Homo sapiens: one gene and its partners. The protein of the gene in region 1 purifies or fractionates together with the protein of each later gene. This does not show direct contact. Each region holds a gene or a part of one and is shown in the gene's direction. Other genes may lie near its edges. The genes, in order: NELFB, ALDH3A2 and SUPT5H.

Evidence for each region.
Region 2: the proteins of NELFB (region 1) and ALDH3A2 purify together in Homo sapiens (affinity purification with mass spectrometry, with the first as the bait; one study listed by BioGRID). This does not show direct contact.
Region 3: the proteins of NELFB (region 1) and SUPT5H purify together in Homo sapiens (affinity purification with western blotting; 2 studies listed by BioGRID and IntAct, with this or other methods). This does not show direct contact.

What each region holds. Positions count from the first base shown.
Region 1 is NC_000009.12:137,261,726-137,265,377, forward strand, and holds part of NELFB (negative elongation factor B), read left to right. Parts: intron 1-1,311; coding exon 1,312-1,497; intron 1,498-2,519; coding exon 2,520-2,632; intron 2,633-3,652. UniProt on the Homo sapiens protein: Essential component of the NELF complex, a complex that negatively regulates the elongation of transcription by RNA polymerase II.
Region 2 is NC_000017.11:19,675,281-19,678,105, forward strand, and holds the end of ALDH3A2 (aldehyde dehydrogenase family 3 member A2), read left to right. Parts: intron 1-277; coding exon 278-292; coding exon of another isoform or gene 293-345; 3' UTR 346-2,316; downstream 2,317-2,825.
Region 3 is NC_000019.10:39,462,581-39,466,232, forward strand, and holds part of SUPT5H (transcription elongation factor SPT5), read left to right. Parts: intron 1-2,217; coding exon 2,218-2,469; intron 2,470-3,652. UniProt on the Homo sapiens protein: Component of the DRB sensitivity-inducing factor complex (DSIF complex), which regulates mRNA processing and transcription elongation by RNA polymerase II.

The sequences.
Region 1 (3,652 bases):
CCGTGTGCGGAGATGAGAGATTGTAGAAGTAAAGACACAAGGCAAAGAAATGAAAAGACAGCTGGGCCCGGGGGACCATTACCACCAAGACGCGGAGACTGGTAGTGGCCCCGAATGTCAGGCTGCGCTGATATTTATTGGATACAAGACAAAGAGGCAGGGTAAAGAGTGTGAGCCATCTCCAATGATAGGTAAGGTCACGTGGTTCACGTGTCCGCTTGACAGGGGGCCCTTCCCTGCCTGGCAGCCTAGGCAGAGAGAGAGAGAGAGGAGAGAGAGAAACAGCTTACGCCGTTATTTCTGCGTATCAGAGACTTTTAGTACTTTCACTAATTGACTACTGCTATCTAGAAGGCAGAGCCAGGTGTACAGGATGGAACATGAAGGCGGACAAGGAGCGTGACCACTGAAGCACAGCATCACAGGGAGACGGTTAGGCCTCTGGATAACTGCGGGCAGGTCTGACTGATGTCAGGCCCTCCACAAGAGGTGGAGGAGCAGAGTTTTCTCTAAACTCCCCCGGGGAAAGGGAGACTCCCTTTCCCTGTCTGCTAAGTAGCGGGTGTTGTTCCTTCACATTTTTCGCTACCGCTAGACCCTGGTCCGCCTGGCAACGGGCGTCTTCCCAGATGCTGGCGTCACCGCTAGACCAAGGAGCCCTCTGGTGGCCCTGTCCAGGCATAACAGAAGGCTCGCACTCTTGTCTTCTGGTCACACCTCACTATGTCCCCTCAGCTCCTATCTCTGTATGGCCTGGTTTTTCCTAGATTATGATTGTAGAGCGAGGATTGTTATAATATTGGAATAAAGAGTAATTGCTACAAGCTAATGACTAATATTCAAATATAATCATATCTATGATCTATATCTAATATAACTATTCTTGCATATTTTGTTATACTGGAACAGCTCGTGCCCTTGGTCTCTTGCCTTGGCACCTGGGTGGCTTGCTGCCCACAGTTGGGTGTCGTGGCATGCAATTGTAGTCCCAGCTACTTGGGAGGCTGAGGCAGGAGGATCACTTGAGCCAGGAGGTCAAGGCTGCAGTGAGCCACAGTTGCAGCAGTGCACTCGAGCCTGGGCAACAGAGCAAGGCCTTGTCTCAAAAAAAGTAATAAAAAAAATAAAAATAACAGAACCTGCTACCATCAGACTGGGGGCCAATATTTAATGAGAGGAGGGAATGTTTTCTGCCAAAAAGTAGGAAGGACAGATGTCCAGAGAGAGGGCCGCGCTGTCGCCGGGCGTGACGTCCCTGTGTCTGGCGGAGCCCAGGACGGTCTGGGGGCCTGACAGTGCCTCTTGCTGCAGGTGGTGCAGCGGCTGACGCGGATGGTGGGGAAGAACGTGAAGCTGTACGACATGGTGCTGCAGTTTCTGCGCACGCTCTTCCTGCGCACGCGGAATGTGCACTACTGCACGCTGCGGGCTGAGCTGCTCATGTCCCTGCACGACCTGGACGTGGGTGAAATCTGCACCGTGGACCCGTGCCACAAGGTAGCACTGCCCTCCCTCCTTCCCCCCTACCCTCCTGAAGGTAGTGCTGCCCTCCCTCCCTCCTTCCCTCCCACTCCCCGGCCCTCCCTCCTTCCCCCACTGCCCTCCTGAAGGTAGCGCTGCCCTCCCTCCCTCCCTCCTTCTCCCTTCTCCCCCGCTCCCCGGCCCTCCCTCCTCCCCCTCCGCCCTCCTGAAGGTAGCGCTGCCCTCCCTCCCTCCTTCCCCCCAACTCCCCGGCCCTCTCTCCTTCCCCCTCTGCCCCTCCTGAAGGTAGCATTGCCCTCCCTCCTTCCCCCTGGCCCTCCTGGCTCCTCTCCTCTCCGTGGGTTTGGCTTGGCCCGGGACCACCTGGGCGCCCTTCTCTCCCATGCCTGTTTCCTGGGCTCTGGTCTTTCTGTCCTGTGTGCTGGCCCTTTGGCTTCTCTCCAGACCCTGATGGGGGAAGGAGGCTAGTCCCCTGCATCTGAGCCAGAGACCTGGCCGTTCCCGGGGACTCCCTTGCCCCGTCCAGCCCTTTCTGTGTTCCCGAGGGCTGTATGACCTACGGGCTGGACCTTGACCATTGCCCCAGCTTCCTCCCATCTTTCCACCTGGCCTGTGGCCCTCCCCTTCCCCAGAACCCTGGGTGCTGCTTGTTGGCCAGGTACCAAGTGCTCTAGGAACGGGGTTTCCCTTCATACGGACCCTCCAGCCCTGAGACCATCTTTCCGGGACTTGGGAGTCACCCTCCGAGGCTTCCATTGCTTGGAGTGCTGCAGTGGCCACCCCCACACTCAGGGTGCCATGAAGGAGTCCGTTTTTAGAAAGAAACATCATCACTTTCTCCACCACTGTCCTGACCCTGCTGCTTTGGCCGGGAGGTGTGGGGAACACTGCACCGTCAGGATGACTGGTGCCTGCTGCCGCCCCCCGCAGCAGCTATGATTGAACAAGAGGCCAGGGCCTGGAGCTGTGTTTGGGGCCTGGGTCTCTGGTCATCCTGGGAGGTTTGGGCTGGTCCCGACCGTGCTTCCTCCTTGCAGTTCACCTGGTGCCTGGACGCCTGCATCCGAGAGCGGTTCGTGGACAGCAAGAGGGCGCGGGAGCTGCAGGGGTTTCTCGATGGCGTCAAGAAGGGCCAGGAGCAGGTGCTGGGGTGAGGGTCGGCTCCACGAGGCCTCTGCCCCTCAGGGCCCTGCGTGCATCCGGTCTGCGCTTGCTGTGTTTTGCCGTGGGTAGCAGGCGTTTATTCCCGGATATTGCTTTTTCTTTTGTTTTTTTCGAGACAGAGTCTCGTTCTGTAGCCCAGGATGGAGTGCAGTGGTGCAATCTCTGCTCACTGCAACCTCCGCCTCCTAGGCTTAAGCCATTCTCCTGCCTCAGCCTCCCAAGTAGCTGGGATTACAGGCACGCGCCACTGCGCTCAGGTAATTTTTGTATTTTTTAGTAGAGACAGGGTTTCACCATGTTGGCCAGGCTTGTCTTGAACTCCTGACCTCAGGTGATCCACCCGCCTCAGCCTTCCAAAGTGCTGGGATTACAGGCATGCGCCACCGTGCCTGGCCTCCTGGATGTTTCAATAGAGCTATGCCGGGCACTGCTGGCCCACAGCTTAGGGACATGGTTGTCGGGATGTGTGTGGGTAGCAAAGTCTCCCTCCTCAACTCTGCATTCTGGAGCCAGGCCCAGGGGCTGGGGTCTGGTGTCTGCAGTGGCGTGGGGTCAGCCTCTGAGCTGAGGGGCATCCATTGGCATTTGCTTTCCAGCATCCTCTGGCTGGTGTATAGACACAGTGCTGCCTGGCCCTGCCTTTGCCACTTTTTTTCTTCCTTTTTTTTTTTTTTTTTTTTTTTCTGAGACAGGGTCTCTGTCACCCAGGCTTTAGTGCAGTGGTACAGTCTCCCTCAACCTCCTGGGCATTGATCCTGCTGTCTCCGCCTCCCAAAGTGCTGGGATTACAGGCACACACCAGTGCGCCTGGCCGATTTTTGTTATCTTTAGTAGAGATGGGATTTCACCACCTCGCCCGGGCTAGTCTCAAACAAACAATCCACCGGCCTCAGCATCCCAAAGTGCTGGGATGACAGGCGTGAGCCACCACACCCAGCCTTTTTTTTGTTTGTTTTTTTAACTTTTTAATTTGAAAAATCTTTGAATAGGTTAAGGACAAATTGCA
Region 2 (2,825 bases), on another chromosome or scaffold:
ACATTAGCTAGTTGACAGTGGACAGAATATAGCCTTCATTATCACGTTGTCTTACTCTTATTGTTATTGTTGTTTTTTGAGGAAGGGCATAATCCTTTGGCCTAAACCGTGCTTCCTAGGCTTCCTAGGGATATGTAGTCCTTTTTTGTACAATGCATGTAGAGTCTCTTCAGACAGGAGGTGTCTGAGTCCCAGTGCTGAGCTTGTGTTGCAAGGCTGGTTGTGGGTAGGTTTTTAAAGCAGCTGAGTAAACTGAATCCTTTTTTCCTCTCTCCAGGCAGAATATTACTGAAGAATGATCCTGTTCAACCTCCTAGTGCCTCTACTGAATTATTCCTCTTTTAAATGGTTAATGAACCAATAATTTTTAAATCATACCAAAAATAGTAAGAAAATATGCAAACACTCTGTGATCAAACTTAAAAGTCATTGCCATTCATCATTAATAAAAGTTGCCATTTCAACTACGTCCCAACATTCCCTAATAGGGTATTCAGGGAACCTGTCTTAAATTGTGCTTATCTAAATCTTGGAACTTTGAGCTAGGGGAGGAGAATGTATTAGACTAAATACAAACTGCGGGGTTGTAAGGGAGTCTCAGAACCTCACTGAATCCTTCACTCCAGTTAATGGCACTGCTCACTTCCTGCCTCTGCTGCCACCATCACTGTGTGAAGCTTTCAAGAGCTTGGTACTTCCCAGGGCTACCGGCAGTCCTCTGTAGTCCAGAGAGGTGAGATTAGATCTTCTTGGTTCCCTGTGAGGTTTCAGGCACTAAAACTCTATGTGGGGAAGGGAGGGGTTACTCCTCCTCCAATGGGACTCAAGGACTTGACCTCCAGGAGTAGGCCCCTGGTCAGAAGTGCCATCTCACCAGTGGTCTTCATTCTTCCTCATTCATTCTTTATCATCCTGTGTTCTGTTTAGTTGCAACAATCTCTTGTGACTAATGTCACTCAAAGCATCTTGTAAATCCTAGGGCTTCCTGGAAGTTAGTTGCCAAAGTCATGCAAGCATCACCTGTCATTCTTGTGTTGGAGTTATAGAATTCTACATCTTATAAAACCTAACTGGCATTTAAAAAATACTGTGGCCGGGCGTGGTGGCTCATGCCTGTAATCCCAGCACTTTGGGAGGCCGAGGTGGGAGGATTGCTTGAGTCCAGGAATTTGAGACCAGCCTGGACAACACAGTGAGACCTCATCTCTATCAAAAAATAAAAATTAGCTAGATGTGGTGGCATGAGCCTGTGTTCCCAGCTGCTTAGGAGGCTGAAGCAGGAGGATTGATTGAGCCTGCGAGGCCAAGGCTGCAGCAGGCTGTGATTGCACCACTGCACTTCAGCTTGGGCAACAGAGCAAGACCCTGTCTCCGAAACAAATAAAAAATACTGTAATAAAAGTACTTATAAACATACTAATCCTCTTTCAGGACCCTAAAGTTGCAGGTTAGTAGGTCTTCAAGGACAAATCTGTAAGTTTCTTATTTCTGTAGTGCAAGTAAAATTTCACTTTTTGAAACTATAGAGAGATCCCTTTCTGATTAGCCTACAGAACTTAAAGTGAGGGAACCATTTCCTCTCACAGACAAAGAGGCCTGGGATATTAGGACTTTGGGGTTTGAGAGCATCATGGGGCAGACAGATGGTGGATGGTCTGGACAAGAAGCGAGTAAGCCACTGCGGTTGGTCATACTGAAGGGAATTGATGGCAAGAGGATCCCCTGAGCAAGTCAGAAGTTACTCTCATCAGTCGTTCATGGTCACAACCTGAGGTACTCTGCTGAGTGGGCAAGGCTGAAGAAGAGGCCTGTGGAATGCAGCATTACCTGCTGGACAGAGCAGGGCAGGCAGTTCTATGCCTTGGAGCTCCTGACTGCAGGGACTCTGTCCCCACACTCAAAAAGACTCAGCTCACTCAATGAGAGAATGTGATTTACTTTATAGAACGTATAATCAACTTTGTTGAATAATTTGTTCTATTAAGGCTGTCTAAAGTATGTGATGTCTTCATCATAGTATGAAGTGTTGAAAATTAATAACGAGCCTAGTTTAGGAAAAAGCTGCTTAAAACTGTGGCTCTAAGAGAGTAATCATAAAATACCTTAGATAAAATTGCACTATGGAATTTTCATTGAGTATGTTTAAATTATTGGCTTGTCTACTAATACACATCTGCTTCAAAATGAACATATTTCATAAAATTGGCATCAATTTTAATGACGCTCCTGGTATGGAACCTCAGATATACCCTATTGGAGACAATCCTTTGATCATAAATTCTCCCCAACTATAAATCATTTTATGTCTTTATCATAGATGGTATTTGTCAACTTTTTTTTTCTCATTTTAAAATTCTTAGCTGAGAAGATTTTCTCAAACTTTATGTTCTGCTGTGTGTGTTGGGGGTGGTGGTTAGTAGCTATAGTAAATAGGTTTTTCCAGTGGCATCCTCCTACCCCCAGTTGCTGATCTAGAACAAGTGTTTCTGTAAGCATATTTGTAGAACACTAATCCCGCAAGATTTTACACAAAAAAATGGTCCTGCCACCAGTCCTGTATACCACTGGCTTGTAAAGCACATCAGCAAACTAAAGGACCCAGGTCATTTGGAACCTCTGAAGTGCTAGTGTGTGCAGCTCCCAGACTTCCTTGACCGCGGAGCCGTTTACCTTAATACCTGTTAACCATGGACCACACTTGGGCAAACAGTGGCATAGAGTCTGGAATTGCTTCCATGATGACTTTGCTGTGCTCTGTTCCTACTTGTTTTGTGCCCTTATTTATATCATGTCACTACTAGAAGAAAAAGTTCAGTAAGAACAAG
Region 3 (3,652 bases), on another chromosome or scaffold:
AATGTAATGGTGCAGTCTTGGCCCACTGCAACCACTGCCTCCCAGGCTCAACTGATTCTCCTGTCTCAATCTCCCAAGTAGCTGGGATTACAGGCACCCGACACCACGCCTGGCTAATTTTTGTGTTTTTAGTAGAGATAGGGTTTCAGCATGTTGGCCAGGCTGGTCTCGAACTCCTGACCTCAGGTGATCGGCCCACCTCGGCCTCCCAAAGTGTTGGGATTACAGGCGTGAGCCACTGTGCCCAGCCTTAATTTTCTTTTTTTTTTTTTTTTTTGAGACAGAGTCTCGCACCGTTGCCCAGGCTGGAGTGCAATGATGCGATCTCGGCTCACCGCAACCTGCACCTCCCGGGTTCAAGCGATTCTCCTGCCTCAGCCTCCCAAGTAGCTGGGATTACAGGCACCCACCACCATGCCCAGCTAATTTTTTTTTTTTTTTTTTTTTTGGTATTTTTAGTAGAGATGGGGTTTCACCATGTTGGCCAGGCTGACCTTGAACTCCTGACCTCAGATGATCCACCCCTCAGCCTCCCAAAGTGCTGGGATTACAGGCATGAACCCACTGCGCCTGGCCAACCGGCCTTAATTTTTGTATTTTTAGTAGAGGCAAGGTTTCACCATGTTGGCCAGGCTGGTATTGAACTCCCGACCTCAAGTGATCCTCCTGCCTCGGCCTCCCAAAGTGCTGGGATTACAGGCATGAGCCACCGCTCCTGGCCTTTTTTTTCTTTTAGTTGGTATTTACAGCTATACATTTACTTCTAAGCATGGCTTTTTTCAAATCTCATAAGTTTTGGTATCTAGGAGTGTGTTGCCATGTATTTGTGAATTTCCTAAGTATCTTTCTGTTGGTTTTTAACTTCATTACATATGGATGGAGAATATACTTTATATGATTTTAGTTCTTTTATGTTTACTGAGACGTGTTTTATGGCCTAACCTGTGGTTTATTCTGGAAAGTTTAATATGCCCTTGAGAAGAAAGTGCATTCTGCTGTTGTTAGATGGAGTGTTCTTTTTTCCCATTTCCGCTTAATAAGTGGAAAGTGAAGACGAAATGTTCTGTCTATAGCTGGCTATTAGGTTTAGGTGGCTTACAGTGTTGCTCAAGTGTTCTCTTTCCTTGTTGATCTTGGGTCTAGCTCTATCCATGATTGAAAGCAGGGTATTGCAGTCAGTGATTGTTACTGTTGAGTTGTCAGTTTCTTCCTTCATTTTCATTAGTTTCTGCTTCATGTATTTTGAGGCTCTGTTAGTTTCATATACATTTGTAATTCTATCTTCCTGATGGATTGACCTTTTTATTGTTACAAAATGTTTTTTGTTGTCTCTGGTAGCAATTTTTGTCTTAAAGTATATTTTGTCTGATGTAAGCACTCCTTTCTTGGTTCTTCTTCTAGTTGCTTTTTTTTTTTTTTTGAGACGGAGTTTTGCTCTTATTGCCCAGACTGGAGTGCAATGGTGCGATCTCAGCTTACCGCAACCTCCACCTCCCGGGTTCAAGCGACTCTTCTGCCTCAGCCTCCCGTGTAGCTGGGATGACAGGCATGTGCCACCACACCCGGCTAATCTTGGATATTTTTAGTAGAGACAGGGTTTCTCCGTGTTGGTCAGGCTGGTCTTGAACTCTTGACCCCAAGTGATCCACCCGCCTCGGCCTCCCAAAGTGCTGGGATTACAAGCATGAGCCACCGTGCCCGGCTCTAGTTGCTTTTTTACACAGAACATATGTTGGATAGCTTTCTATATTAGTACATACAGGTTAATCTAATTTTTATTTTATTTTTTATTTTTAAGAGACAGGGTTTCACTCTGTTGCCCAGGCTGGAGTGCAGTGGTGCGATCTCAGCTCACTGCAGCCTCAACCTCCCGGGCTCAAGCAGTCCTCCCTGCTCAGCCTCCTGAGTAGCTGGGACTACAGGCATGTGCCATCACACCCAGCTAGTTTTTGTATTCTTTAACTGCAACATTGTATTTCATGGTACATTAAGCCATAAGTTAACTAGTTACTGTTTCTGGATATTTTTAAAATTTTTAGTCTGGTTTGTTTGCTGTGATAAATAATTCTGCAGGGAACACCTTTGTGTCCATGTCATTGTGCCAGTGTGTTTCTGTGGAATAAATTCCTAGAAGAGGGACTGCTGATGAGTGGCAGTCATTTCTGTTATTAGCCGTTGTGTCTCACTGTTTCCTCCTTCCACCGGCTCACCCTGCAGCCCCTGCAGATCAAGTCAGTAGTGGCACCAGAGCATGTGAAGGGCTACATCTACGTGGAGGCCTACAAGCAGACCCACGTGAAGCAGGCCATTGAGGGGGTGGGCAACCTGCGGCTTGGCTACTGGAACCAGCAGATGGTGCCCATCAAGGAGATGACAGACGTGCTCAAAGTGGTGAAGGAGGTGGCCAACCTGAAACCAAAGTCCTGGGTCCGCCTCAAGCGGGGCATCTACAAGGATGACATTGCTCAGGTGCCCGGGGCGGGGTGGCATGGGGGTCAGGGTCCCTCCATTCTGTTCTCCCTTCCTTTCCTTTTGTCCTTCCCACCCTCTTTGTGCTGCAGAGAATAGAATCCCACTCAGATGAGTTGAAGCAGAGCCTGGGTTTTGTGAGCACACAGGAAACGGTTGGCTGTCTTCTGTGCACATTCCCAGGCGTGTTGAGTAAAGGTCTGAAGGATCGGAGGGCGTGAGGCATGTGGAGCTCTTGGGGAGGAGTGTTGTAGGCAGCAGGAGTGGCCTGTGAGATAGGATGGCACAGTCACTGGCTACAGCAGGGATGGCGTGAGATGAGTTAGGGAGCTCACGAGGGCCTGCGGCCCATTGGAGAGCTTTGGTGTTTACTGGCGTAGGATGGGAGGGCTGTAAGGGACACAGGCAGACTTCAATGTTAATAAGATTTCTCTGGTGACTGTGTTGAGACTAGACCACTGGTTCTCAAGCCAGGGTGATGTTTCCCCAGGGGACATTTGGTAACGTCTGGAGACATTTTTGGTTATGTCAGCTGGGGAGGGGGTTGACGATTATGGCATCTAGCAGGTTAAAGCCAGAAATGCTAGACACACACATCCTCCAATGCACAGGATGGCTGCCCACAACAAAAAATTACCTGGCCCAAAAAGTCAATAGTGCCAAGGCTGAGAAACCCGGGAATAGCCTGGAGGGGGCCATGGGCAAGAGCGTGGAGACCAGGGAGGAGGCTGCTGCTGTAGCACATCCCACCCAGATGGCAGTGCTGGTGGGATAGGACCAAGACCCTAATACACGTTGAGTGTCTCTAACCTGAATTCTTGAGACCACAGGTGTTTTTCAGATTTCAGATTTTTTCAGCTTTTGGAATATTTGCATTATACTTACCGGTTGAGCATCCCAAATCTGAAAATCCAAGAGTGAGCATTTCCTTCGAGCATCATGTTGGTGCTCACAGGGTTTCCTATTTTTGAGCATTTTGGGTTTTTGGATTTGGAATGCTGAGACTGCAGTGGAGGAGGGGAAGAGGTCAGGTATTTTGAAGGCAGAGCTGATGGAATTTGCCAACGGGTCGGGTGTGGGTGTAAGAGAAACAAAGGAGTCAAGAGTGGCTCCCAGGTTGTGTGCCTGAGCAGAGGGAAGAATGGAGTGGGAGGCGGCAGGTTTGGGGGAATCAGCGGTTTGG